4 linked regions of the Homo sapiens genome follow. The protein of the gene in region 4 purifies or fractionates together with the protein of the main gene of each other region. This does not show direct contact. Each region holds a gene or a part of one and is shown on either strand. Other genes may lie near its edges. The genes, in order: SPAG9, ZMYM6, PLXDC2 and GCSAML.

Region 1 (7,726 bases), on a different chromosome or scaffold from region 4:
AGCCACTGCACTCCAGTCTGGGCAATAGAGCAAGACTCTGTCTTAATTTTTAAAAATAAAAATAAAAAAGTCCGGGTGCAGTGGCTCACGCCTGTAATCCTAGCACTTTGGGAGGCTGAAGTGTGCAGATCACAAGGTCAGGAGTTCAAGACCAGCCTGGCTAATATGGTGAAACCCCGTCTCTACTAAAAATACAAAAATTAGCCAAGCATGGCGGTGCACGCCTGTAGTCCCAGCTACTTGGAAGGCTGAGGCAGAAGAATCGCTTGAACCCGGGAGGCGGAGGTTGCAGCGAGCCAAGATCCCGCCACTGCACTCTAGCCTGGGCAAGAGCGAGTGCTCCATCTCAAAAAAAAAAAAAAAAGAAAAAGAACAGAGCCTGGCTCAATAAATATTTGTTCTTTCTAAGCATCTATGTTTCTGTTTATCTTTCCACCTACTTGGGGGAATGGGATAAGGTAGAACTAGAGAATCATAAAGTTCCTGTCCAGCTCTTTAAAAGAAACTGCAGGAAGGCCGGATGCAGTGGCTCACACCTGCAATCCCAGCACCTTGGGAGGCCAAGGCGGCAGATCATTTGAGGCCAGGAGTTTGAGACCAGCCTGGGCAACATAGTCTGACCCCCATCCCTACCAAAAAAAATTAATTAATTTAATTAAAACTGCAGGAAGAACAAGAGAAAACACACTTTAAAGGGCAATAATAGTCAGACACGGTGGCTCACGCCTGTAATCCCAGCACTTTGGGAGGCCAAGGTGGGCAGATCACAAGGTTAGGAGTTTGAGACCAGCCTGGCCAATATGGTAAAACCCCATCTCTACTAAAACTACAAAAATTAGCTGGGCATGGTGGCACGCGCCTATACTCTCAGCTACTCGGGAGGCTGAGGCAGGAGAATTGCTTGAACCCGGGAGGTGGAGGTTGCAGTGAGCCGAGATCATGCCATTGCACTCCAGCCTGGGCGACAGCAAGACTCCATCAAAAAAAAGGTTAAAAAAAAAAAAAAGGCAATAATAGATGTTGCATGTGGCTCACAACTATAATCTCAGTTACTTGGGAGGCTAAGGTAGGGGGATAGCTTGAGCCCAGGAGGTTGAGGCTACAGTGAGCTCTGATTGCAACACTGCTCTCCAGCCTGGGCAATAGCATGAGACACTGTCTCAAAAAAAAAAAGGGAGGGGGGCAGTAATAGAATCCAGAATCATAAAAATTCCAGGCCTATACCCCAGAGGAAATCTTATCAGCAGGTAAAAGAATTTCTCAGGCTCTATAACCCTGGCAGAGTAGGTAAACAAGTCAGAAACAAGATATCCTGGAAATACATGATTTAAGAAAAAAAAAAAAAAAAGATGGCCATGGGGCGGTGGCTGGTGCTGGTTATCCCAGCATTTTGGGAGGCTGAGGCAGGCAGGTCACCTGAGGTTGCAAGTTCAAGACCAGCATGGTCAACATGGCAAAACCCCGTCTCTACTAAAAATACAAAAATTAGCTGGGTGTGGTGGCAGGCACCTGTAGTCCCAGCTACTCAGAAGGCTGAGGCACAAGAATCACTTGAACCCAGGAGGCAGAGGTTGTGGTGAGATGAAATTGCACCACTACACTCCAGCCTAGGTGACAAAGCGAAAGACTGTCTCAAAAAAAAAAAAAAAAAATAGTTACTAGCAAAAATATTAAATATAGGGTCATTTTCTGTATTTCTATATCTCAAAGTTTCAAAAAGGGGAAAAATAATTTGTTTTCTTTTTGAGACAGGGTCTTGCTCTGTCACCCAGAGCAAGTGGTGCTGTGTGCCAGAGTGCAGTGGCACAATCAGGGGTCATTGCAACCTCAACCTCCTGGGCTCAAGGGATCCTCCCACCTCAGCGTCTCAAGTAGCTGGAGCCACAGGTGCATACCACCACACTCGGCTAATTTTTCTATTTTTTGTAAAGATACGGTCTCACTATGTTGCCCAGGCTGTTCTGGAACTCTGGGGCTCAAGCTATCCTCCTTCCTTGGCCTCCCAAACTGCTAAGATTATAAGCATGAGCCACTGTGCCTGGTCCATAATAGTTTTTATGTGATAATTTTATTTATTTATTTTTATTTTTTTTTGAGACAAAAGTTTCGCTCTTGTTGCCCAGGCTGGAGTGCAATGGCATGATCTCAGCTCACTGCAACCTCCACCTCCCGGGTTCACATGATTCTCCTGCCTCAGCCTCCTGGGTTCAAGCGATTCTCCTGCCTCAGCCTCCTGAGTAGCTGGGATTACAGACGTGCACCACCAAGCCCAGCTACTTTTATATTTTTAGTAGAGACAGGGTTTCTCCATGTTGGTCAGGCTGGTCTCGAACTCCTGACCTCAGGTGATCCGCCCGCCTCAGACTCCCCAAGTGCTAAGATTACAGGCATGAGCCACCACGCCTGGCCAATGTGCTAATTTTAAAACAAAATTAGCCAATTTTAATTCCGTTTTATATATTTCACATTTAAATTTCTTTTTCTTTTTCTTTTTTCTTTTTTGAGATGGAGTCTTGCTCTGTCGCCTAGGCTGGAGTGCCGTGGCACGATCTCAGCTCACCACAACCTCCACCTCCCAGGTTCAAGTGATTCTCTTGCTTCAGCCTCCGGAGTAGCTGGGATTACAGGCACACACCACCATGCCCAGCTAATTTTTGTATTTTTAGTAGAGACGGGGTTTCACCATGTTGGTCAGGCTGGTCTCGAACTCTTGACCTCGTGATCTGCCCACCTCGGCCTTCCAAAGTGCTGGGATTACAGGCGTGAGCCACTGCGTCCGGCCTCAAATTTAAATTTCTTATAGAAAAGTAACTAAAATGCAAACACTTCCTCCCAGATGAGTTTCATTAATTCATTATAAACATATTAAGAAGCTAGTTAGCTATATAATAACTGACACATACTGTGCTCTTAAAAATTAATTCAAATTAATATTAGATGATATTACAAAGGTTCTTTTTTTTCTTTTCTTTTCTTTTTGACAGAGTCTCACTGTGTTGCCCAGGCTGGAGCACAGTGGCATGAACACATCTTACCTCAGCCTTGACTTCCTAGGCTGGTGCGATCCTCCTGCCTCGGCCCCCCAAGTAGCTGGGACTATAGGCACACACCACCACACCACGCTAATTTTTATATTTTTTGTAGAGACAAGGTTTTGCTATGTTACCCAGGCTGATCTTCAACTCATGAGCTCAAGTGTTCCGCCCACCTCAGCCTCCCAAAGTGCTGGGATTACAGGCATTAGCTACTACACTCGGCCTTGGAAATGTTCTCAAACGTAAATAATATGGTGGTTATATGGCAGAATATTCTCATTTTTTAGGAGATAAATATGTTAAGTACTGAGAGGCAAAGTATCATAATGTCTGTAATTTAAATATGTTAAGTACTGAGGGGCAAAGTATGTCTGCAATTTAAAATGGTTCAGCAATTAAATATGTGTATGTGTGTATATGTGTATCCACACCCACACATCCACATATACAGACAGATAAATAAAACAACAACTACTGAATCTATATAGTGGGTATACAAATGACAAATGTACTTTCCATTTTTCTATATGTTTGAAAGTTTACCTAATAAAAAGCTGGGAGGGGTGGTGGTGGATTTACTGAAAAAGTTTACTAACCTTACAAAAAAAAAAAAAAAACCCTAGCTGGACGTGGTGGCTCACGCTTGTAATCCCAGCACTTTGGGAGGCCGAGGCAGGCAGATCACTTGAGCTCACAAATTCGAGACCAGCCTGGGCAACATGGTGAAACCCGTCTTTACAAAATATCAAAAATTAGCTGGGCGTGGTGGTGTACACCTGTAGTCCCATCTACTTGGGAGGCTGAGACGGAAGGATGGCTTGAGCCCAAGAGGCAACAGTTGCAGTGAGCCAAGATCGCACCACTGCACTCCAACCTGGGCCAGACCTTGTCTCGAAAAAAATAACATAAAATAAAATTCTATACCCTCAACTTGGTACTTCTCTATTACATTAATATATAAATTCCCATGGTTCACCTCACACATTTTTGGGTGTGCCTATTATGCCAAACTACTGAATGCTGTAATTCTTAAGAAAATAAAACACAGTATGGCCGGGTGGGTGGCTCATGCCTGTAATCCCACCACTTTGGGAGGCCGAGGCGGGCAGATCACGAGGTCAGATTGAGACCATCCTGGCTAACGCAGTGAAACCCCATCTCTACTAAAAATACAAAAAATTAGCCGGGTGTGGTGGCGGGCGCCTGTAGTCCCAGCTACACGGGAGGCTGAGGCAGGAGAATCGCTTGAATCCAGGAGGCGGAGGTTGCAGTGAGCCGAGATCCCGCCACTGCACTCCAGCCAGGGTGACAGAGCAAGACTCCGTCTCAAAAAAAAAAAGAAAAGAAAACACAGTGCTATGTTCAAAGCAATAATCAAATATCACTGGTCAAGATTTCAAAGTAAAAAACAGAACTTATATATACCCATTTCCAAATAACAGCTTTTTAAATATATATAACATTACATACATTATTAAACTGGTCTATGCAGATATTTCTGACCACAACCTAATAACTTATTTAGATAACAGCTGTATTCATTGAGTGCAGAGCAGAGCAAAATAACTTGGGTAGGTTCTAACATCAGTTCTCCTGAGAAGCAAAGTTCAGTACAACATAAGTAAGCAGCATGTAGTTAAAGGTAAGGTAAAGATTTCAAGAAGCAGGAATCCTGTACTCTCTCAAGCACAGAACTGGATGTGTGACCTATGGCACACACTTCAGCAATCCAGTGAATAGTCAATCTACTAATCTACCCTCTGAACCAGTTTGGTACTATACCCAGTTTGGTGTCCTCTTTTGTGATTTTTTTTTGTTTTGTTTTTTCTTTTGAAGACACAGTCTCACTCTGTAGCTCAGGCTGGAGTTCAATGGCAAGATATTGGCTCACTACAACCTCCGCCTCCCAGGTACAAGTGATTTTCCTTCCTCTGCCTCCGGAGTAGCTTGGATTACAGGCGTCCGCCACCATGCCCAGTTAATTTTTGTATTTTTAGTAGAGACGGGGTTTCACCATGTTGGTCAGGGCTGGTCTTGAACTCCTGACCTCAGGCAATCCACCACCTCGGCCTCCCAAAGTGCTGAAATTACAGGCATGAGCCACCATGCGTAGCGTTCTTTTGTGATTTTTAACTAAATAAAAATATGAGTGTCACTACAGCAGGGACACATAATGGTATCTCATTTAGATATTCACATTCAGAAATCTCAAATTTAAAAAAAGATGTCTTAATCCAGAGCTAGTCTTTGTCTTTAAAAAAAAATGTCTTAGGAGCTTAAGTAATAATTAACTAACAAATTATTATTTCATAAAGCAACAACCATACCCCTTCCCATCCCACTCCCGCCAGAAAACAAACATAGATTGTTCATTTCAGAAAGTGTCTGAATGACTAGGTGCAGGGGCATATCTCTATCTACTCTGGCTAGGGGCAGTGTGAACATTATTCGAATCGTTAACCATGGCCAGGTGTGGTGGCTCACACCTACAATCCCAACACTTTGGGAGGCTGAGGTAAGAAAATGTCTTGAGGCCAGGAGTTCAAGACAAGCCTGGGCAACACAGTGTGACCCCATCTCTACAAAAAAAAAAAAAAAAAAAAGGCCAGGCGCAGTGGCTCACACCTGTAATCCTAGCACTTTGGGAGGCTGGGGCAGGCAGATGACTTGAGGTCGAGATCAAGACCATCCTGGCCAACATGGTGAAACCCCATCTCCACTAAAAATACAAAAATTAGCTGGGTGTGATGGCGCGCGCCTGTAGTCCCAGCTACTCAGGAGGCTGAAGCAAGAGAATCGCTTGAACCCAGGTGGTGGAGGTTGCAGCAAGCCAAGACACTCCACTGCACTCCAGACTGGCGACAGAGCCAGACTCTGTCTCAACAAAAAAAAAAAAAAAAAAAAAAAAAAAACTTTGGCAGGATCCACAAGGCAGGAGGATCCACTTGAGCCCAGGAGTTCCAGACCAGACTGGGCAACATAGTGAGTTCAGCTTGCATAACATAACGAGACCCTGTTTCTACAAAAAAAATTAAAAATTAGCCAGGCATGGTGGCGCATGCCTGTAGTCACAGCTGCTCAGAGGCTGAGGAAGTGGGATCTACTTGAGCCCTGGAGGTCAAGGCTGCTGTGGGCCATGATTGCACAACTGCACTCCAGCCTGAACCTCATCTCTAAAAAAAAGAAAAAAAAAAAAACCCAACCAAAGGAAAAAAAAATCACAAAAACAAACAGTTCAGAAAAAAAAAATGGTATTTTTAAAAATATGAAAAAATGTTGGCCGCTGCCGGGCGTGGTGGCTCACACCCATAATCCCAGCACTTTGGGAGGCCGAGGCCGGCGGATCACCTGAGGTTGGGAGTTCGAGACCAGCCTGACCAACATGGAGAAACCCCATCTTTACTACAAATACAAAATTAGCTGGCCATGGTGGCACATGCCTGTAATCCCAGCTACTCAGGAGGCTGAGGCAGGAGAATCCTTTGTATCTGGGAGGCGGAGGTTGCAGTGAGCTGAGATCGCACCATTGCGCTCCAGCCTGGGCAACAAGTGTGAAATGCCATATCAAAAAAAAAAAAAAAAAAGAAAGAAAAGAAAAAGCAAATAGGTTGGCCGGGCACAGTGTCTCACACCTGTAATCCCAGCACTTTGGGAGGCCAAGGCAGGTGGATCACCTGAGGTTAGGAGTTCAATACCAGCCTGGACAACATGGTAAAACCCCATCTCTATTAAAAATACAAAAGTTAGCGAGGTGTGGTTGTGAGCACCTGTAGTCCCAGCTACTCAGGAGGATGAGGCAGGAGAACTGCTTGAACCCGGGAGGCAGAGGTTGCAGTGAGCCAAGATCGCGCTACTGCACTCCAGCATGGGTGGCAAAGCAAGACCCCATCTCAAAAAAAAAAAAAACAACAACAACAAAAGAAAATAGGTTGGGTGCAGTGGCTCACACCTGTAATCACAGCACTTTGGGAGGCTGAGGTGCGAGGAATGTCTGAGCCCAAATATTCAAGATCAGCCTGGGCAACATGGGAAACCCATTTCTACAAAAAATACAAAAATTAGCCAGGCATGGCGGCATGATCCTGTAGTCCCAGCTATTCCGGAAGTTGAGATGGGAGGATCGCTTGAACCCAGGAGGCAGAGGTTGCAGTCAGCCGGGATTACACCACTGCACTCTGGCCTGGGCAACAGAGTGAGATCTCGTCTCAATCAATCAATCAAAAGATCTATAAAAATATTAAAATATGTGTTTTTTAGGCCAGGTGCGGTGGCTCACGCTTGTAATCCCAGCACTTTGGGAGGCCGAGGCAGGGGGATCACCTGAGGTCAAGAGTTTGAGACCAGCCTGGACAACATGGTGAAACCCCTTCTCTATTAAAACTACAAAAATTAGCCGGGCGTGCTGGCGCGTGCCTGTAATCCCAAACTACTAGGGAGGCTGAGGCAGGAGAATTGCTTGAACCTGGAAGGTGGGAGTTACAGTGATCTGAGATCGCACCACTGCACTCCAGCCTGGGCGACAGCACAAGACTCTGTCTCAAAAATAAATTTTTTAAAAAATGGGCCAGGCATGGTGGCTCATGCCTGTAATCCCAACACTTTGGCAGGCCAAGGTAGGCAGATAACAAGGTCAGGAGTTCAAGACCAGCCTGGCTAACATGGTGAAACCCCATCTCTACTAAAAATACAAA
Region 2 (7,726 bases), about 210 Mb from region 4:
TTTTTAATCTAATACTTAGAAAGAAATACTTAGGAGAGCTACTTTATGAATATATCATGGATCTATCTACTCACCTGGATATTCTGACCATATTAGCTGTCCTACTTGCAAAATTATTTTATTCTTAGCTAGGATAAACTTTGCTACCCATGAAGAACTGTTCCATTTTATATTTTCTGAGATAATTAACGTGTTGTTCTTTTCTCCTTGCCTATAAGCAAGCTCTGAAACAAATTTTACACTAGTCACAGCAACTATATTAACTATACTCTCCCTTTGTTTGCCCTGATTTTCTGTTTTTATTTCTGGTTTATTAACTAAATAGTATATATCCCTAGTTTAAGTTATTTATGTACAGATACATTCAATCAAAAAGCAATCAAATCTAAGTTTCCTATAAAAATTAGTGCATATACATTATTGGCCTTTTGGTGTGCTTGACTATCAGAGCAAAAAGTATTAGAATTACTTTTCCCTCAAGGGGAAATCTTAAAGACTTCTTAAAGAAAAATTTAAGGAAATTCAGGCTATTTGAATCCAATGAAATTTTGTTTTTATTATATTATTTATAACTGTATATGCTGATAGTGTCCTAGCACTGACATAAAAATCCCATTAGCTAAGTTTAATTTTACCTTTATTTTGTGGAAGACAGTCATTCATAATTTGCTGATGACAAAACTCCAAGACACAAAATAGGTTACAGAAATGTTTAATGTTGCCTCGCCACTTTATGGACTCGCTTAGTTTACCCTGTCGTTTACAACCATCACACTTGGCCATCTGAAAAAGAAATGTTAGACAAGATAGGCTTAAAACTATAAAATAATGAAAAGATAACATTAATCATAAAAAGAGGGACTACGAAAACAGGATATATGAGTCAGTTGAGACTACAAAATGTAAGGTTCTTACCTTAAAATACTGATTTTATTTAATTATTTGTTTTATATAGATGCCCTAAATCAAGATAATATAAAAACTGTGGCCAGGCACGGTAATTGTGGGATCACGCCTGTAATCCCAGCATTTTAGGAGGCCGAGGTGGGCGGATCATGAGGTCAGGAGTTCAAGACCAGCCTGACCAACATGGTGAAACCCCGTATCTACTAAAGTACAAAAATTAGCCAGGTGTGGTGGCGCACGCCTGTAATCCCAGCTACTTAGAAGGCTGAGGTAAGATAATCGCTTGAATCCAGGAGGCAGAGGTTGCAGTGAGCCGAGATCGCGTCACTGCACTCCAGCCTGGGTGACAGAGTAAGACTCTGTCTCAATAGAAAAAAAAAAAAATGCTCTTCTGTTTTCAAAATTACCAATAAGGGAATCTATCTAAAGATAGGTTCATAACTGGGCATGGTGGTGCCCACCTCTCCTGGTTACTCGGGAGGCTGAGGCAGGAGAATCACTTGAACCCAGGAGGCAGAGGCTACAGGGAGCCAACATCGCCCACTGATCACGCCACTGCACACCAGCCTGAGCAATAGAACAAGATTCTGTCTGGCTGGGGGATGGGGGGTGGGCAGGTGGGATGGGGGAAGAAAAGATACACAATGAAAAAAGTAAGTAAAAAAAAAATAAAGATAGGTTCAACTTCTAAAAAATTAAGCAGCAGCTTACAGTAGTTGATATAATATGGGCTTTGGAGTCATAAAGATTTTGATTCATTCAGCAAATATTTAATTAGACATCCTTTGTCTTAAGCACTGTGATTGGCCCTAATTATATAATCATGAAAAATATATTACCCTCCCCCAACAATAAAATTCTATTTTTTTAGAGGTAGAAAAACAAACAGTGATTTACCAGAGTGTTATAGATGCTGTCTTGCTGTCACCTACCAGCTTCCTCAAGAGCATATTACTTAACTTCCCTGGACCTCTCTCCTTTTCCTTATTTATAAAATGGCAGTAATATACTTACCTCTTGGGACTATGGTAAGGATTAAATGAAATGACACTTACAGAGCACCAGACATGTATTAGTGGTTCAATTAACTGTAGCTACCATTGTTAGCCTTTCAAAAAGTTAATCTTTTTAAAAATGAGGTAGGAATGGTTGCCAGCTATTGTCCTTTGACCTATGAAGTGAGACAAGGTCTAACTTCAAATTCCTCAGAGTAACCTGAATGAGAGAGCCACTTCAGGCAACATTATGTGAAGTTCTAACCTGAAAGAAGTCAAATAAGGGCAAAGTGCCTCATAAGAAGGCAAAAATAAAAGGAACATATCCAACCAACAACAAAGTCTGCAGAAATCCTATACTTTTTATCCCAAAGATTTCCTGTTTATATTCAATTGAATTTTTCTATTATAGCCCATAACTTATTTTATCCAGTGCTAAACACCAAATTTTTCTTCACATAATTTGAATACATTTTAAATAAAAACAATTTGCACTGATTTCAGAAAGCCAAAAAAAGTATATTATCACATTTACCTGATAAAACAGAACTGTAAATTTGGACATACAATCTTCACAACAAAACTCTTCTAACTTGCCCTCCAATCGATTTTCTACCAAATTTGGGGATGTCTGTGAACAGTAGCTGCACATCTTACAGTAGTTTCCCCATCGTTCTCCAAAGTCACGGGCAGAGAGGAATTTGCAAACTGAGGATCAGAGGGATGAAAGGAAGAAAAATCAAATTTACATTAACTGAGGAGGTATAATAAGTTTCTGTGGTCTTAGATATGAAACTTTAAGCTAATTTCTAATACACAATTATTTGCCTCTAGATTACAGGACAGTCTCTATATTCACAAACCAAACTCATACCACCTTTTATTTTATTTTATTTTTTGAGACAGAGTCTCACTCGTTTTGCCCAGGCTGGAGTGCAGTGGCACAATCTCAGCTCACTGCAACCTCTGCCTCCCAGGTTCAAACGATTCTCCTGCCTCAGCCTCCTGAGTAGAGCAGCTGGGATTACAGGTACCTGCCACCACACCCAGCTAATTTTTGTATTTTTAGTAGAGATGGCATTTCGCCATGTTGGCCAGGCTGGTCTCAAACTCCTGACCTCAGGTGATCTGGCTCGCCTTGGCCTCCCAAAGTGCTGGGAATACAGGCGTGAGCCACTGCGCCCTGCCACCACCTTTTAAATATACTCTAAATATTAGGCCATTTATATTCAGAAACATTAGAGGTATAAAAGTTTTTTAAGCCAAGAAGCAGCAACTGTTTTAAGTTCCTCTTCGCAAATGAGTGCAAGAACAAAAAGATCTCTGATGTCATAGCTAAACTTATGAAGAGATTTTCTTTATTAATACCACTGATGTAATCATTTTTACAGTTTTTTATTGCAATTACTGCAACATTTAAAAAGACTGACTTTCAGCCAGGCACAGTCGCTCACGCCTATAATCCCAGCACTTTGGGAGGCCGAGGCAGGAGTACCACCTGAGCTCAGGAGTTCAAGACCAGCCTGGGAAACATGGTGAAACCCCCCGTCTCTACCAAAAATAAAAAAAATTAGCCAGGCATGGTGGCACGCTCCTGTAGCTTCAGCTACTTGGGAGGCTGAAGTGGGAGGATCCCTTAAACCGGGGAGGCAGAGACTGCAATAAGCCAAGATCATGCCACCACACTCCAGCCTGAGTGACAGGGCAAGACCTTGTCTCAAAAAAATAAACAAACAAAAATAATAAATAAAAAGATTGACTTTAAAGTGAATTAACTATAAACACAATTCAAAAAAACCTTTTTTTTTTTGGAGACAAGAGTTTCGCTCGTCGCCCAGGCTGCAGTGCAATGGCATGATCTCAGCTCACTGCAACCTCTGCCTCTGAGGTTCATGCAATTCTCCTGCCTCAGGCTCCCAAGTAGCTGGGATTACAGGCGTGCGGCACCATGCCCGGCTAATTTTGTATAGAGACGGTGTTTTTTAACAGAGATGGGGTTTCACCATGTTGGTCAGGCTGGTCTTGAACTCCCAACCTCAAGTGATCCACCCACCTCAGCCTCCCAAAATGCTGGGATTACAGGCGTGAGCCTCCATGCCCGGCCTCCAAAATACTTCTAATTACACCTTGTAAGACAAAAAGAATGTGAAAACTAATCATGGCTTAATTGCCCAAGTCGTCATGAATTATAACAACCCATGCTCTGTGAATAAAACAACTTTGTCTTTACCTTCACTACAGAATGGCTTATCAACCCCTGAGAATCGCACAGTCTCCTTTATAATTTTCTGCAGTTTACAGTAGTCACACATTGCCACAACTTTATTTTTCTTCTTGTATTCATCAGAGCAATTCTTGCCACAAAACAGAAACATTTTACCCTGCAGAGAAACAACAGTCCATTAAGAGCCAACTAAACAGTTGCTTTATCTTTAAGAACTCCTTTTCATGTCAAAGCAAATTGAGTGATCAAAATTGAAAACACAAAAGTGTTTCTACTGGATGAGTTTATATACAATCCCTTTCATGATCTCTCTTTACCTTGTAAAAAAGAAGTTCTGGTTTTGTGGCAAATAGATGGTTACAGTGCTGACACTTGAGTTTAACAACTGTATGGGTTAAAGCAACTTGCTGGGATTGTTCAGCAAGAGGTTGGAGGCTGGCTGCAGCAGAGCCACGGATGGAGCTGGGGGAAACGGCAGAGGTGTTACCTCCTCCTATTGACACTGCTGACCTGGAGGAGGGCGGGCTTACAACCACTTGGCCCTGAGACAGGGGCACCGCCGAAGAGTTTGTTCCTTTTGGCTTGCTAAATACATTCTGAATGAAAACAAATAAGGTAAAGATTTTATCAACTGAGAAATAAGATAACTTTGTACTTTTCATTTCCTCATTTTAATAAATCAAGTCTCCCACAAACATTTTTTAAAATTTTCTATCTCACAGAAAGAGTTTAAATGGTATATTTCCAGAATAAAAGGACTGAGAAATACAACATTAAAAGGTCAAGGACTGGAATTCAGGCTTTCCTGACAAAGACCTCCAGTATATGCCTCTAATAAATTAGAGCAGGCCTCTCCTTCCCCCTAAAACTTCCCCCTACCTGCACTCCCATCATCAACCAGCTTCTGATGGCTACTACGACACAATAGCTACCAGCAGTCTCTTTCTCCCTAATGCCAGGGATACTACATCAGGCATGTTCCTACCCTGGAGATTACTAAACTCTACTCTTTGTGTATGTATTGCAGAGAGGGAGGAGAAAATGGGACAAGTGGATGCTTACAATTCCATGCCAGGAGTCACTGTGTTTCTGACACAGGATGAGAGGAAGGGGTATGTGAATCCCATCAGGCTACTGTTCTTCACCATACCACCTACCCAAACCACAATCCTAGCTTCCATCTTTTTGAAGGGGAGAGACCCAAGGGAGAAAGTGGGAGGGAATGACAGTTTAGGCTAGGATCCTAAATAAAGAAGAAACTGCTGAGACCCAATATCTGGGTTCAGATATTTTGTAGAAATGACCTGGTTGGGCCCCTGGATGAAACAAATTTTTTTCTTTTTAATTCAAATTTAAACTTTCATAAGAACAGGCCTTCAGCAGTTAACACTGTGCCACAGATCGATGCCTAACAGAACCACATGCATAATGTGCTACCTTAGATCATACCTGGAAAGCAACCACACAACTGGAGCTGCAGAAGCTGTATATAGTTCCATTTGACATGGCTAGGTGATACTGAGGGATTGCTGAGGTTTTACAACTATGACATGAAACCTGGACACCTTGGTGACAAAAAATTAAAAACAATGATTAAGTTATACCAATGAACAAACAATACAAAAATGTATTGGGAGAATGAAAAAATTAAATAATCAATAATATACCAAAAAAATCAAGGAACTTTATAAAAATCTGAAATCTAACCACAACTAACCTCTATTAAGTCCCACTTACACAAAAACTAACTTGGAAATTTTAAGTGTTTTTTCTTTCCTCTCACATATGAAATTATAAAATACTGTATATATTGCAACCAAGAAAATCGGGGAAAAACTATTTTCACATAAAAGTCAGTTATTTAAAAGTCAGTCTTGGGTTTTTATTTAACTAAATAGATAAATTTAGCTTGTAACAAAATCAGAGAAAAGCAGTTACGTTTTTCTTCAATAGTTATTAAATCTATAAATTTATCAAATTTAAACATTACCTGAAGAAGTAACAGTCTTAACTCTGTAAGCAGATAAGCAATTAATAGAGCAGAAAAGCTCTGTTTTTCCTGAATCATTTGTAGTCTCAATCATTTCAGCTGAGGGCCTCAATGACTTCCCCAGGGCATATGGAGGAATTTGGGCAGAATTCTATTAAAATAAAATAACATTAGATACCTAGTACAAACATACATATTTACATATTGTTCAAAAAAGTAAAAAGAAAAGCTACCTACAACCACGGTCCTTGGTTGAAATATTTGAGCATGATGATGAAACCACACTATTGGGAGGTGGGAAAATAAGTTCTTCCAGACAACAATAAAATAGAAACTGAAGAAAATTAGTAACTATTCAGATAGAGATCTTAGCAAACAAAACACATGAATTCAAACACAAGTAATGAATTAAATAGTCATTACATACTTTTTAATCACCAATAACCAGAGAAGACCAGCTAACCCATGAACCAAAGGGTCATTCTTGGTATAGTCTTGTACATCAATCTAGAAGAGTCTACCACCTTTAAGGTTACTTAATTTGTGAGATTCTTTAGCAGGAGATAGAAATGATATTTAATGTATATTAATAGAGATCCTACACAACTACCTATTTTTCAAGCTGAGTTTCATAATAAAATCTGCTTATAAGTTTATTCATGTTTTAAGAAATAATAAAAATAGCTACCATTTACATAACCAATATTATAACTTACTGAATGCTTACCATGAGTCAGGCCCCAGGCTAAGAAATTTATATATAGTGTATCACAGAAACCTTTCAACAACAGAGTGAGGCGCTCTCAAAAATTACATTAACAAAAAGTTTAAATTAACAGATGAGCAGAAGAAGTAGGAAATTAAACTCATTTCATCAGGCTCCAAAGTTCAGGCTCCTAACCACTACACTATGCTGTCAGTGATACATTATAAGGTCTCTCAATATGAAAAGAAATTGTAGGAAAATATAAATTGTGAGGTTTCACTACATAATCTTCCTAGTAAAAAGACAGAGTACAATACTAGTAACAAAATTAGAAATGGAACTGATTTTGGGATCATATATAAAATAACATGGATTCTTTTCCTGTGAAAGTAGAACCAGACTGCCAAAAATGGCAAATCTTAAAAAAAGAGATTCTTTTCAGTGATGAATGTCCATATGTCCATTACCAACTGCTCAAAGGAAGCAACAAATCAAACTTGCTAACTGAAAAAAAGTTTAATTATCATTTACAAGATACATCTTTGTTTTTTTTTTTTGTTTGTTTGTTTGTTTTTGAGACAGTCTTGCTCTGTCACCCAGGCTGGACTGCAGTGGCACAATCTCAGCTCACTGCAACCTCCACCTCCCGGGTTCAAGCAATTCTCCTGCCTCAGCCTCCTGAGTAGCTGGGATTACAGGCGCCCGCCACCACGCCCAGCTAATTTTTGTATTTTCAGTACAGACAGGGTTTCACCATGTTGGTCAGGCTGGTCTCGAACCCCTGACCTCGTGATCCACCCGCCTTGACCTCCCAAAGTGCTGGGATTACAGGCGTGAGCCACCGCGCCGGCCTTACAAGATACTTCTTTAAGAAAAACTTTTTAAAACCACAAATTAGTAATAAT
Region 3 (7,726 bases), on a different chromosome or scaffold from region 4:
AAGAAAACCAGGTACATATACACCATGGAATACTATGAGGCCATAAAAGAAATGAGATCATGTCTTCTGTAGGGACCTGGATGGAGCTGGAGGCCATTATCCTTAGCAAACTAATGCAGGAATGGAAAACCAAATACCAAATGTTCTCACTTATAAGTGGGAGCTAAATGATGAGAATGCATGGGCCAAAGAAGGGAACAACAGACACTGGGGCCTACTTGAGAGTGGAAGGTGAGAGGAGGGAGAAGATCAGAAAAAATAACTATCGGCCGGGCGCAGTGGCTCACGCCTGTAATCCCAGCACTTTGGGAGGCCGAGGCAGGAGGATCACCTGAGGTAGGGCGTTCAAGACCAGCCTGATCAACATGGAGAAACCCCGTCTCTACTAAAAATACAAAAATTAGCTGGGCATGGTGGTGCATGCCTGTAATCCCAGTTACTTGGGAGGCTGAGGCAGGAGAATCGCTTGTACCCAGAAGGCAGAGGTTATGGTGAGGCAAGATCTGGCCATTGCACTCCAGCCTGGGCAACAAGAGTGAAACTCCAACTCAAAAAAAAAAAAAAAAAAAAAAAAAAGAAAAGAAAAAAAAAGAAAGAAAAATAACTATTGAATCCAAGGCTTAGTACCTGGGCGAGAAAATAATCTGTACAACAAAACCTCCAGGACATGTGTTTCCCTATATAAGACACCTACACATGTACTCCTGAACCTGAAATAAAAATTAAAAGAAAAACACCATACACTTGGACAAAGAAACATAGAGTAAGACATAGTCTATAATTATAACCTGTTTACACAATTGCCCCCAAGTAAATGAAAAATTTCATTAAAAAAGTTTTTAAAGGAATAGAAATATCTGACATGGTTACAGAATTTTTAAAAGTTGGCCTATTTAATTGTAATTAAATTATGCCGCACTTTATGGAATAGATGGATTTCAGAAGATTTGACCAAAGGGCATTCTTTCTTTATCCTCAACATCCCTTTTATAATCTAGGATTCAATTCTCAAGGAAAAAGTAATCCCTCAGCTGAACATAAGATATCGAGTCTGTAATATTATAAATACCCATTAACCTATGGGTTAATAATGCTCATTAGTAATTCTCACAGTTCAGGTTTCTCTCATAATTAGAGACTATCTAAAACATTACATTTGTAGTTCCTGGAACTTTATTTTTATATTCTTAGTCCAACAGGCCTTACTTACTTTGTCAGAAGAGTTGGAAATCAAACACACAGTTATTCTAGTCTAAATATTCTGTAAATTTAAGGCTACAATTTAGTAAATTTTCATTCTTTACTTTGTCAGTTTGTTAAAATGAAACAAACCTAAGTTTAAATTTCCTTGTTTTTTCTGTCACTTAGGTCTCTAATTAATCTTTCCTATCTGGTTTCAACAAACATTAGCCAAAGCACAGCCATCCTAGAACTCTCTCAGTACTGGGTCCTTGAGCCACATAAGTTTTCGTGTCTATAAATGCTTTTGAAATTAGAACCAAAATATAACAAAGAAATCAACCAGGTGAAAAAAAAAAAACTAACTAAAGAAAATACGTAAATATAAACATTTACATTTAGATGAGAAATCCCTCCAAATTGAATTTTTTTTCTTAGAGACATTTCACTCTAATTACTCAATAATTAGTCAATATAATTACTCAATAATTTTATGAAATTGATGAGTCCTGATGCCAACAATATCAGAATACAAAAGAGCTAACAATCAATGCACCCAGAAAATTAAAACTAATCAAAACATTTTTTATTAAGCAAAGGAAACCAAGAGGCAAGAAAATGATTTGAGGATCATGGCTGTAAAATGTCCCTTTCTTGACATTTGGAGGAAAGGCAGCAGTCAAGAACAAGGGGAAGGGAAAGAAATTATCAACGCATCACTTACTTCTTTGTATCCAAAGATGATTCGTCCATCCATGAGCAGGGTTGCCTGGAATGTGAAGCTTCCCAGGTTATAATTATCCTGGAGATGTACATGGTCCCACTGGACCACAAGTGCTGTGCCTATACACCCATTGAAAAAAGAAGAAATGCAATGAGAAAAACATACCAATCAATTCTGGTGGGAGTTTTCACAAAAATGTTTTTGCATCTGGCCTTCAAATCTGGTAGTTGTACTATTTCGATTTTATGTGGTTAATCAAATTCTGTTATTGAAATAGCATTTGGGATTTTTTTTAAAGGATTGAGTACTCTCTAAATATTTAGTAAAATAGAACCTCATACTAAGGTCAATAATTGAGCTAATGCAGTGTGGGGGAATTTTGCCTTAGGAATTTTATTAATGTTAATAGATACTGTCTGCTTAAATTTCCATAAGCCACTTTCAAAATGCAGCCCAAGTGGATTGAATGAACTTCAAATACATTTGACAAATGCTGAGAGAGAAACACATCTAAAAAGTTAGGACCACATACAAAAGACCTGAAAATGTCTTTTCCATACTTAAAATTATACTTTTCCACATTGAAGGAGTTCCTTTAACACTAATGGGAATTTTCTCCTTGAGTTCACAATGCTTGTATTTCTGTCTTTGTTGTGTTTCTTCCAGGAAGCTGTAAGAAGCTCAAAGGGCCCTGGACTAAGATTTTTGAAGTCCCCTTGAAGCACACTGGGATGAAACTTCAGTGCTGTATATTATATTCTGAATCACTCTGTCAGTGTTTACCATAAACGATTGGGCATGAAATAAAAACTGAAACATAGTTTAATAGTCACCAGTGAGAATTCAAATTTTTGTTTTAACTGACATTGTGTACTCTCTTTTTTTAAAAAAAAAGAAAAGAAATGAGCTGCTAAGACTTTTTCTTCACTCTAAATATTAGATTTTTCTGTTTGGTTAGAAAAACTGTTGCCCAAAAAAGTTGTGCTGAAAATGAAAATCATAGAACTAAAAGAGCAAATCTTATCTCCCAGTAATAAATATCTGATATATTTAAAAATTACAATTGCATGGAAGAATTAATTTTCAGTAACTATTTGGTGCTATTAGTAATATCTCTTGAGCTGGTTGACAATTTTAAATAGACACATTATTTCAAATATTTTGAACACCCAATTGTAAGTCCTGAAAGGATGTTGAAGTAAAGAAATGTATTTCTTTTGAGGCAAAACTTTAAAAGTAAAAAAGAAAAAAAAGTTTTTTAACTTGACCTTGGTGCTTTTAGCCATTATCACTGCTGTGAGTGAAGACCACTCAGGTCTCTTCCTTCCACGGGCATCTCCGTGTCTATATTGTCCTGAGGGAGGGAGGGAGGGAGGGAGGGAGGAAGGAAGGAAGGAAGGAAGGAAGGAAGGAAAAAGAAAAGAAAAGAAAGAAAGGAAGGAAGGAAGGAAGAAAGGAAGAAAGAAAGAAAAAGAAAGAAAGAAAGAAAAGGAAGCAAGGAAGCAAGGAAGAAAGAAAGGAGGGAGGGAGGAAGGAAGGAGAAAAGAAAAGAAAGAAGGAAGAGAAAAGAAAAGAAGAGAAAACAAAAAAAATAGAGCAAAAGAAGACAGTAGCCAGGAAACCTCCCATGATTTTATAAGTATAGGAATTTTCTGATTGTGAAATGCCTCCTAACTTCTTTTTCCTTCACACATGTCTACAACCCTCAAGCTCTAGTCTATTCCTTATTTTCTAGTTTCTATCGCACTCTGGTGATGCAGTGAAAACAATGAACCAGAGGGCAGAAGACTTAGACTTGCATCTTGTCTCTATAAAACTTTCCATGTGAACTTGGACACAATTAATCTGCATGAACCCGTTTCCTTTCCTATAACATGGGGAGTATAGTTTTTGCCTTCAAGACATTCCTGCATTAAATACAAGAAAATATACTTACGCTTGATTATTTATGAAAATAAGAGGGCTATATAAATTAAAGTTTTTAATGCCAATTCTGAGGAAGGGATTCCTAATATTTTGTTAGTAGCAGGTTGTTAAAAACCACACTGTTGACCAGGTGCGGTGGCTCACAACTGTAATCCCAGCACTTTGAGAGGCCGAGGCAGGCGGATCACGAGGTCAGGAGATCCAGACCATCCTGGCTAACACGGTGAAACCCCATCTCTACTAAAAAAAATATTAAAAAATTAGCCGGGCGTGGTGGTGGGCGCCTGTAGTCCCAGCTACTCGGGAGGTTGAGGCAGGAGAATGGCATGAACCCGGGAAGCGGAGGTTGTAGTGAGCAGAGATCATGCCAGTGCAGTCCAGCCTGGGCGACAGAGTGAGACTCCATCTCAAAACACAAAAAACAAAAAAAAGTGTACTGTTTGCACATGTTAAGTTTTATATTATGTAATAGCATAGCTCTCTCAACATTTGCTGATTTAAATTTTCTAACCTGCTGCTGTCTTTTCCAGAGAAGTTTGCTTTCCTAAATTGTTGAGTTTCCAATCTTTAAGTATCCTGTCAATGATTCTAACTAAACTTGAAAATATTTCAGCAAGTTGTTGTGGTATTAAAAGGGCTTCGTGAAGAGTCTTACAGTGTTTAAAAGTGTTTCATTCATTTAATAAAACGTAAGTTTTCATTATCATATTGTTTGAACTCAATATTCCTCAATATTTGATTCCTATGGAATAAGTCATTACACAGAAGATATTTCAGTGGGTAAACAATACATGCATTCTTGAGTATTAATACTTTTACAATTCTCAGACATAAAACTCACTTTACGTATGTAATTATTTTTATTCATTCATTGAATAATTATTTAGGACCTACGTCCTAAATAATAAAGTGTCTATGCAGGGTACTGGAGATAAAATGATTTCTTATAGCCACAGTCCTTGTTTTTAAAGAACTTAAGAGTTCAGTTGGAGTAGTATACATCAATTTTTAAAAATCATTCAAATACGAGTAAAATTCAAATATTAAGAGCTACCTAGGAACAAGGTATATGAAAATATATGAAGAGAGACTTATTTAATATGCTTTATGATTTTGATAGCAACAGTATAAAAACTTGGTCATTAGAATCATGTGCCCATGAGTAAATGACCCTAACATCACCTAGTGAATGTCGGAGTTTGGAAAATAGTCAGTGTTCACTAAATCATTTATTGTTTCCGTAGGATAGACTCCCAAGGCAATTTTGCATGGTAATCATAGAATAAGTTTCAGATAAGTTTCTGGCTGCAGTTTTGCCTCAAGAATAGTGTACTTACAGTCCACTTGCACATCCTTGGGTGTTAGCACCTCATGAGTTTTTAAAAAATGGAAGAGAAGAGAATATAATAGTTCTTAAAATAACAGAGATGAATCATTATTGCAGCTAACACTTAGAGTTACCTAATATTGGATCATACCTTGGTGTTACTCAAGATGTTCAACGTGTATTTCCTAAGGTGAATGTCTAACTATGTTTAGTTTCCTCATTGTGCTATTTTGACCTGTAAAATGGCTTTCATCACACTGGTCAGGAGATGGCTCTTAGCAAAGTGATCATATTTCTCCAAGGCTACAGCTACCATCAAGTCTATTCCAACCATGAGCAAATTTCTTCCTTGATCATCAGAAATAAGATAAAAGTAGAAATAACTCTGTTCACCCCAAATGCTTGTATTATTTGCAGGCATAAAATTGTCTTTTAAACAAATAAATATCATTTTTGAATGATAAATACACAGAAAATTCTATATTTAATCATTGCAATATAAACTCTTTGTTACCTATAATTTATTTTCTCTACCAAAGTTACAGCTTTCAATAAGATGTTGAGATGAAAATTCATTTATGTCTCCAAGACCTTGAATTTCTCGCTTGGATTTTGGCACCACTTAATGATTTATTATAGTTTTTTTCTCTATTTTATATGTCCCAAAAAGTAATAGCAGGGATACATTGCTCTTGGTATATTTGATAAATCTTGACAGGCTCTCACTCATTTTCTAAAGTCAAGAAAACTTTATTTTCTTCAGTTGAACTACCCACAACTAACTACTTTATACTTCTTAAAATATGTGTTCATCTTATTGATACATACAAGTCATAAGTTTTGGAAATTTAATGTCAATATATTATGGCACTTGCCTCAACTGGAAGATCAGAACTAACAAAATTATTCTTATTTCCATTTTTTTCTGATGGGAAAATTGGAAAACTGACTTATTGAAATAGCATCAAATAAATGCGTTTGCTTTGTCTGAGGTCTTGTCTACAGCAACTCAGTTTTACTGTGTATAGTAGATGTTAATAAATGTGTTGAATGAATGAATGCCATTTGTGTACTTTATAAATCTTAGCAGTATAATATTTGTCCTCTCAGACCATTTGCATCAAGCAGTTTACACACCAAAAAATAAACAGTTTACAAAAACATTAACATGAATCTGATGCTTGAGGTTTAAAAATATACATGCAGCAAAAAATAGGCTACTCAACACATACCATTATCAAAATATCTGACAGTTGAATTTCTGGATACACTGGGATCGAAATTTGCCATTAAAGGTGCTATGTACTGTGTGGCTGTTAGCATTCGATGTACGACTTCTCCAGTGTATATGAAACCTAGAATTAGAAAAATAGGAAACATATTCAGAAAAAGAAGCCCATATAAAATTATGATTAAAATACTTCCAACTCAATTACAGTCATATTATGAAAATAAAATGTCATGGTAGCTGGAAAAAAAGGAACATATTTAATATCTTAGTATCTAATTAACAATACTTGGTCTGGATTAAGTAACAAATTCTTGTATAATTTGGTAGAACCTTGCAAATCCGAAATCTATAACATGTACAATTTTAATTGGGGGGAAAGTGACCATTATCTGGATGAGATTATTAGGCTAAAAATGCTAATACAGTATTATAAGTAATTCAAATATTCAATTTGCTATTATTAATCCCTTGTTATTTTAACAATAGCTTACCACACAAGTCCTTTTAATTAGTGAATTCATTTTCATGGTATTTATGTAAGCTACCATCTCAGCATAGGAATTTTAGAAACGACATCTGGTAAAATGCAGAAAATGTTTTGATTCTTTTTTTTTTTCTTGAAAGTTGAAAGGGGGCTAAACACCCATGGTGACGTTTTCAAATTGTTGGTTTGCTCAAGCCTCTATATTATCAGCACACTGTCAAGAAGATAAAGTCTATATGTTTGCAGGTAAGGTGGTAAAACATTGACAATGCACAAATGCCTCTCTATTTAGAGATTTAATCAATGCCAGTCTATTCTAGCAGTTGGATAATGAGAGGGAATTTATTATGGAGAACTTTGGCTTTGAATTAACTTTCAATAGCTCCTATGTTACATGTCTAACCCACTTTCAATTATTCACACTAGGTTTATTTACTTTGTGGATTATCCATGACAAATTGTTAATCCTGTGCTGGCTTCTTGCTTTCAAGGTCTTTAGCTGTCTGAAAGGAGAGTCAGCTCAGGGATTGCTAACTAATTTTAATATTAATCTAAGAAATACACAATTGAGATTACACATGCAAATGCACACACACAAATAAAATGCAAGGCAAATTATTTGTGACAATGCAATTGTAATGTTTGGGCAGTCATCAGTTAATTAGATACCCGACACTAATATAAATCATTTTTCTACTTTCACAGGAATTAATAAGATAATAATATTTAAAGCTCAAAAAATGTTAAACTTTGATCACTCATTTTATGGTCTGAATAAATATTTCATTGGCAGATTGCAGTCTTCATTGTTTCAAATTCAAAATTGTGATGTCTAGGTAAGTTATTGCAGAATTA
Region 4 (7,726 bases):
ACATATGTATAAAAGAAAATAATACATGTTTGGGGGTGGGGGTAGGGAACAAATAATGAGTTTTCAAACTTTCATGGGGAAAATGTATGTAAAACCAAGTCATCAGGAAGGCGGCTTAAGGTGGCTCAGCTCCACAGCTGCAGAGTGGAATTACGTTCACTAAGTTGTGAGGAGAAAGATACGATCCAAGAACTGTATTACTCTCCAAGGAAAGAAGATGTGTTCTCAAATGTCTTAGTACTGAGATAATCTAAAACCTACGAGGTCTTTAGGAAAGAAATAAAGCAAACATTACTGCACAACCACATTTGGACTTTGTAAAATGTGAAGTTATGTAACAAAGCAGCTGGTGAATGGGGAATTCAGCCACTCAGTTATCTGTCGTTCCGAGGCTCCAGCCACAAAATCCAAACCTATCTAAGTCCGGGCTGTGGATTATCAGCACCTACTGCTTGTCCACTCTCTCTTAAATACAGTGGAACAATTCTGCATGCTGTGGCCGCTGGAAATGTCCAGACAGTGGCAGGAATTCCTGGATTTCTAAGAATCCTCTTAGATTTTCTTGACATCTCTCATGAACTAAATTATGTCCCCTTAAAATCCACATGTTGAAGTCCTAATCCCCAGAACCTCAGAATGTGACTGTATTTGGAGATAGGATCTTAACACAGGTAATTAAATTAAAACAAGGTCATAAGATTGGGCCTTATTTCAGTATGACTGGTGTCTTTATAAGAACAGAACATTTGAACACAGTCGTAACACAGAGGGAAGACAATACGAAGACTCAGGGATAAGACAGTCATCTACAAGCCAAAGACAGACTTCACAAAACAGCCCACCTCTGCCAACATGTTGATCTCAGACTTCCAGTCTCCGCAATTGTGAGAAAGAAAATTTTGGTTCTTTAAGCCACCCAGTCTATGGTACTTCGCTATAAGAGCCTTAGTAAATGAATATAGATAGATATATGGGAACTAGACTAGGCAATACTAATGAAACAGGACCTCCCTCTATCCTCCCTATCCGAGAGGAAGCTGCCTGCAATGTCCCTGGGTGTCCTTGATCTCCCGTCACAGGGACCTTCTCACACTGCGGAAGATGAAGATTTTAGCAAGGCCGTCATTTCAGAAAAAAAAAGCTGGACAGAAGATGGCATGATAAAGATTAAAACCGACAAACACCTAATACTGTCATGAATTGCTACACACCAAACTATTTAGAATCCATATGAAAGAAAGAAAAAGAAAACATGAAAGGTAACTCAAATAAACCAGTAGATTAATTTCTCTCAGCTAATAACAAGCAGGAGAAATAATGACAGTGAATATCTGAAATACACAATAATGTTTCTCTAGCAGACAAATTTCAAAATTATGATCTCTGAACAAAATATTACATAATATATTTTCAAAATCTAGGCACATAATGATGTGCACAGATACCAGCTAGTATGTATTGAGTGTTGGTGCCAGACAGCCATCGTGCTGATGAAATAGGCAGTGATTTCTTTTTCCATAAACACAAGCTAAAATTGTAGTATTTTAAGGCTATTTTGCATATGAAGAACCCAAAATTTAGAGAATGTAAGTAACTTGTCTCAAAGTTAACATATAGGACAAAGAAGACTTTAATAAAATCTATAAAGCAGAAATAACACAGACCACACAGATACTGGTAACAAATAAAATTTAAATTATATTCAAGACTATAAAACAATATTTGAAATTTAAAAACTACTCAGGTCCAAGAATAAATTAAAAGTTGCAAAATATTAGACAATAATAGTATTTCCTTCAATTACACATAGGATACAGGTAAAATATTATTTAGAGGGAAAGTTTGTATTCATATATGCTTCCATTCCTAAACAAGAAAAGTTGAGAACAAAATTATTGAGTTTTGAATTCAAAACAATTAGAATAGCAACAATTTAAAAAACTAAGGAAAGCAAAAATAAGAATGCAATAAAGATAAAAGCAATGATACTATGACATCCTGGAAAAAATGCAAAACAGAAATCAGATCAGTGGTTGCCAGGGGTTGAAGGGAAAGGGAGGGTGGTGGAAATATTCTGTATCTTGATTGTGGTGACTACATGACTGAGTATGTTTTTCCTAAACTTATCAAACTGTATATATGAGAAGGGTGAATTTTACTGTACTATACCTCTATAAGCCTACATTTTAAAAGTTAAGTGACTTGAAAGAGCTCATACTGTCCTTTCTGTAAATATGTTTAAATGAATAATATTCTGATAAGAATCCAATAATCAAAATTGACTCAGGAAGATGTAGAAAATCCAACTTTATTCAATAGACATCATCCTGTGAAATTAGCCAAAAAGGAAACTGACTTCTTAGCCCACATGCAACACATATTTGACTGCAATTGACTAGAATGGTAAAATGGTTCAGATCTTCCTCACCATGCTGACTAGTGAAAATTCCATGAGTCGTGCTCCTAAAATTTCCTTGCATGAGAAAACCCTAACGACATTTAATTTATCTACATTTAGTTATTGTCTGATTGTAATAAAGGCTTGCTGGTATTTGAAAATGTTAACACTTCAGTTCCTTTAACAGAAAAATATTAGAGAATGACATCTAGTGCAGATCTCACTTTAGACATGATGAAACAAAAGCCTAGTTTAGATGACTAGTTTATGCGTAAGTTAAATGCCTAATGGGAATGCCTGAATTAAAAGTCTAGTTTAAAAGACGCTATACAGAACTGATTCACAGCAGCTGATAAAAGAACCTTGGTTCAATAATATCACCAAATCATTGCTATCTCCTCTCCAGCTACAAACCATAAGGGGAGTGGGGGGAGTCGGGGGAGCGTGAGAAAGGGTCACAAGATAGGCATAGCCAACTCCACTGTCCCTGAGGGCTGACTCATGAAGCCAACTCTCTCCTTTGTGCAGGAAAGTGTCGTTCAAACATTTAGGAGGGGGCTGATGCCTGCAAACATCATTTCACATCACCAACAGATACCTGGCTCATCTCCTCAATCCTCTGCCCCTTCATACCATGGAAAAGAAGAAGAAGCCATCTCAGAGACAGAAACCAAGACATTGAGATGAAATGATTAAAAAAGAGCTTAGTGCAAGAATACGAAAAGCCTACAGTTAACCAACAAGGCAGGGTGTTTCTGTTCATCTAAGCTGAGGCAAGATATCAACATCTAGATATCTACCATTTTTCCACTCCATTTTTTTTCTTTTTTCCATTGAGTGTCTTGCAAGGGTTGAGCAACAGATATACATTAGCAAGTGAAACAGAAGTGACGTTAAAGTGCGTATGGTCTATGAAGGAAGTGGACTATAAAGAGCTCAAACGACATATAGAGTTACAAGTTCAGATAAAGGCCACAGCAAATATAAGTAGGTTCTAGTGCCATAAAACCATGCGGTGCAGAAGCAAAGTTCCTCCATAATCTTTCAGAGAAGGGCATGAGGGCCAGCATCTCCAGGAGGAGACGTTATCAATCAGTCCAAATGCAAATATGGAATTTTTTTTTAATTGTGCAGTAAAAGACCAGCTTGTAGAAATGCCCTAAAGTGAGGCTGAGTTTGGTGGCTTAAAGAACATCAAATAAAAGGAGAATGCATGTAAGATAGTGGGTGAAGGTAGAGAGTGAGGAACCAGATGGGAGAGATGCAGAATCCAATCCTTATGGAACTGTAGGCCCTGGTGAAGAGTTTGCATTTTATTCTGAATGCAATGAAGAATGACTGAATGGTCTCGGGCAAGGAAAAGGCATAATGAGACATGTTTTCCAAAGATTATTCTGGCTACTTGTAAGGAAAAGGTGGGAAATATGGCCACCACATATAACCAACCAAAACCAAACATCCTTTATTCTATCTTTATGTTTCTACACTCACATTATATAATCAATAGAAACAAAACACGTGGCTAATACCCTGTCTTTCTTATTTAGACAGAGTCAATGTCTAACCTGCTGCCAAGTCATGCAGGTAATCACCAAAGAACTCTATTATAGCGGCCCTAAGGGGTGTTAGTTCTAGTGGGGCAGAGACTCTGGAAGTAATCTCAATGAAAAAACAAAACAAAACAAAACAAAAAAACTCTGAGATGCTCTGTTCTTACCGTTTTCTTTCCTCATCTGGGTTTCCTTTCTTGGGCTTCTTTTGATTCTCTCCCAGGCAACTATATGGAAACACATAAGAAAAAAGAGAGATTGTTACTGCCCTCCACATTTTTTCACCTTCTTCTCTAACTTTCTAGACCATTAAAACCAAACCTGACTTTTCTTTTTGACAAACTTCCCTTTCCTTCAAAATCAATAAGCAGTCACAGATAGAATGCATTTCAGAAATTAACCACAGAGACCAGGACTCTGATGGGACAGAATGCCCATAGTCTGACTTTTGATTCTGTCAGTCTTAGGATTTCTTGTGACCCAACATGCAAACTTCCTGCATCTCTAGAAGAGGTGAGAGCTCCCAGGAAGCTATAAAGACCTTAACAACAGGGAAGCATCACTTTTGCAACAACCTGAGGCAAGATGATCTGCTTGTACACACCTTTGTGGACTATGAGGACTGCCAGTCTTGGCCCACTGAACCAGAGCAAGCGTCTCTGGGCCCTGCTGCATGTGGGCATCCATGTGCAGATAAGACATTGGGATCTTTACATACATTCAGGAAAGCTGACTTTTTCATATTACTCTTGGTGTTTTGCCATCAATTATCATCATCTTTATGATAATCAGGCAAACACTAAATGACGAAGTTAGAGAAATCAGGTGATTTGCGTGGTTAACACAATAGTTAGCAGCTTATGTTTGTGACTTGGTTAATCAAACTTTCTACTCCACCAGTTGTCCACACATAGCATTTCCTTGATGGTTTTCTTTTCCTCTATTGTCACTTCTGCAGCACTGGTCTATCCTTCTGCTTCTAGGTAGCTTTGCATATAAGAGCCTCACTTCTGCTTACCAGCAGTATTCGGGGAAAGCATTTCGAACCAACGCTGAGAAAGTGCCTTCCCTGAATAGAGGTCATATGTATATGTTCAAGAAACATTGCTAGATATCAACACACAAAGCCACTAAGCAAAGAATATATTTGTTAAATATAAAGGAATATCAATTTACAGAGGTGGGGGCTTTTTATAGAATCAGTTGCTGATGTAGAGATTTTGTATAATAGTCACGATCACAGTCAAATCTGGATGTAATGTTTATTTAATAGTGTAGATTGTAAATCAGGTAAAAAGTAATTTAACTGTCTCCTTTTTTCCCCTTTTCCTGGAGTCTAGTTTTCTCACGATTCCATCTTCCTAAACTGGTCAATAAAGAAAGAATTTGGTAAAATAATTGTCCTTGGGGTTATTAGTGATTCATTGACTTACACATCTAAAGGATGTTTGTATTTTAAAGTTGAAAACAAGACAGGAAAAGTATTTAACATCAGTAGGGACCTAATTGGAATTCCACACCATTAATATTACTGAATATAACTGGATACTAAATTCTACTGTGAATAAAGTAAAAAGTGTTTTTCTTAATCCAGAGGAATTCAGATAATATCAGGCCATAGGTGATGTACAAAAATTTGTTGACCAAATTAATAAATCAACTAATACTCTATTGTTTTCAAAAATAGGTATTTTATTAAGCTTTAGATGTATCTTGGCCAAAGAATTAAGATTATGAATAATTTTTTATACCTTCTGTGTTTTTTCTTCTTATTTTTAAACTTTCTAAATGTTGGATGTTGACTTATGACTTCATAACTCTACAAAGAAAGTCTTAGTAAACATCCCCCAAAATCAACAATTTGCACATGATTTCTCCAACTATCAAGCAGTAAAATTAAAACCCAATAAGCTATAACCAAAAGTGTACCTGTCTAGGCACAAGTAATATTCTAAATAATCCTTATGTTAAAGAGGGAATCATAAAGGAACTTTCTAAAAACACAGAATAAAATAATAATGCAAGCTACACAAGACTATTTGAAGGATAAAGTGAAGTGTGAAGAAAATAGCTTGCTAAAATACATTCATAAGAAAACATAAATGACTAATAATGACAAAGTAAGCATTTATCTTAAGAAGTTGGGAGAAGAAAAAGGAAACAAGAAAGTTGTGGGTAAAAATAAATATGATAGGGAACCAAATCTTAGAAAAGAATAATATCAGTAAGATAGCAAAAGTCTGGAAAGACCAACTAAAGAAATAAGGAATGGAGACAAAAATATAATGAAAACAGAAAGTTCAAAATAAGTATTACAGACATAAAACAGGCATGATGAAGAATTATGTATAATAAACATTATGGCTTAAAATGAATAATATCTTGGAAAAAATGAAATATAAAAACTGACACATGAATAACATCAATAACAAAAAAATCCAGCTTACACAGCTGCGTACACAATTTACCAAACTTCAAGTGACAAATATACTCTCTCATATATAAGATGTTCCAGAAAGTAGAGAAATGTAAAATGATGCCAACCCATTTAATGAGATTGGTAAACTTTCATTTCAAATTAAATAAATCAAATTTTTAAAAATCACAGGTCCAACTCGATCATGAAAATAGATGCAATAATCCTCAATAAAATATAAGTTAACTAAATCTAAAACTATAGTAAAATTGCACACATCACAATCAAATGGGTTTTATCCCAGAAATTAAAAGATAGGTAATTAGCAAAAATATTTATTAACATAATTAACTACTTTAGAAGCCTAAGAGAAGAATCATGAGGTTATCTCAATAGTTTAAAACTGCATTTGATAATGTTTGGTCCTTATTAACAATAAAAACCCTCAGAAGAGCTGGGTGCAGTGGTGCAGGCCTGTAATCCCAGCTCCTTGGGAGGCTGAGGCAGGAAGATCACTTGAGGCCAGGAGTTCAAAGCTGTAGTGCACTCTGATTGCATCTGTGAATAGCCACTGCACTCCAGACCGGGCAACATAGTGAAATCTCATCTCTACATATTTTTTTAAAAAGTAGAATCTCCTTATTTTGATAGAGGCAATATGCCAAAAACATAAATGCCAAATATAAATGTCAAAAATATACAGCAACCTTGATGAAAACAATTTAGAAAAAAATTATTATGATCAGTTACAAGAAAATGATGCCTAAGAATTCTGACATAACTATGCTATAAAACATGATAAAGGTACCTATAAGACTTGTAAGGAACAAAAAAAGAATAGAAAAATCTTTAACTTTATAGATGATATATTAACTATGTAAACCCAGTAGGATTAAAAAACCATGAAAAAAAATGAGAAATTCAACAAGGCTAGTGGATACAAAGTCATCTTGCAAAATTCAATAGCATTCCAACAATAACAGGCTAGGAAAAAATGTCATTCATAGATTTATTACTGTTGCATATGGTATCTAGAAATCTATCTAACAAAGAATAAAATAAAAACAAAAAATTAAAGCTCTATCAGAATGCATTAAAGAAGATTTGAATAAAGATAATTATAAATAATTGTTTTGATTGGTGTATTAATAGTATATCTGCATAGACCAGGCGCAGTGGCTCACGCCTGTAATCCCAGCACTTTAGGAGGCCGAGGCAGGTAGATCACAAGGTCAGGAGTTCAAGACCAGCCTGGCCAATATGGTGAAACCCCGTCTCCACTAAAAATACAAAACTTAGACGGGCATGGTGGTGCGTGCCTGTAGTCCCAGCTACTCGGTAGGCTGAGGCAGAAGAATCGCT

Evidence for each region.
Region 1: the proteins of GCSAML (region 4) and SPAG9 purify together in Homo sapiens (affinity purification with mass spectrometry; one large-scale study listed by BioGRID and IntAct). This does not show direct contact.
Region 2: the proteins of GCSAML (region 4) and ZMYM6 purify together in Homo sapiens (affinity purification with mass spectrometry; one large-scale study listed by BioGRID and IntAct). This does not show direct contact.
Region 3: the proteins of GCSAML (region 4) and PLXDC2 purify together in Homo sapiens (affinity purification with mass spectrometry; one large-scale study listed by BioGRID and IntAct). This does not show direct contact.

Annotation. Positions count from the first base shown.
Region 1 is NC_000017.11:51,106,753-51,114,478, forward strand, and holds part of SPAG9 (C-Jun-amino-terminal kinase-interacting protein 4), read right to left. Parts: intron 1-7,726. UniProt on the Homo sapiens protein: The JNK-interacting protein (JIP) group of scaffold proteins selectively mediates JNK signaling by aggregating specific components of the MAPK cascade to form a functional JNK signaling module.
Region 2 is NC_000001.11:35,006,316-35,014,041, forward strand, and holds part of ZMYM6 (zinc finger MYM-type protein 6), read right to left. Parts: intron 6,267-7,726; coding exon 6,116-6,266; intron 5,691-6,115; coding exon 5,575-5,690; intron 4,722-5,574; coding exon 4,443-4,721; intron 4,283-4,442; coding exon 4,132-4,282; intron 2,610-4,131; coding exon 2,437-2,609; intron 784-2,436; coding exon 636-783; intron 1-635. UniProt on the Homo sapiens protein: Plays a role in the regulation of cell morphology and cytoskeletal organization.
Region 3 is NC_000010.11:20,142,080-20,149,805, reverse strand, and holds part of PLXDC2 (plexin domain-containing protein 2 isoform 1 precursor), read right to left. Parts: intron 6,512-7,726; coding exon 6,389-6,511; intron 2,023-6,388; coding exon 1,904-2,022; intron 1-1,903. UniProt on the Homo sapiens protein: May play a role in tumor angiogenesis.
Region 4 is NC_000001.11:247,552,856-247,560,581, reverse strand, and holds part of GCSAML (germinal center-associated signaling and motility-like protein), read right to left. Parts: intron 4,176-7,726; coding exon 4,116-4,175; intron 1-4,115.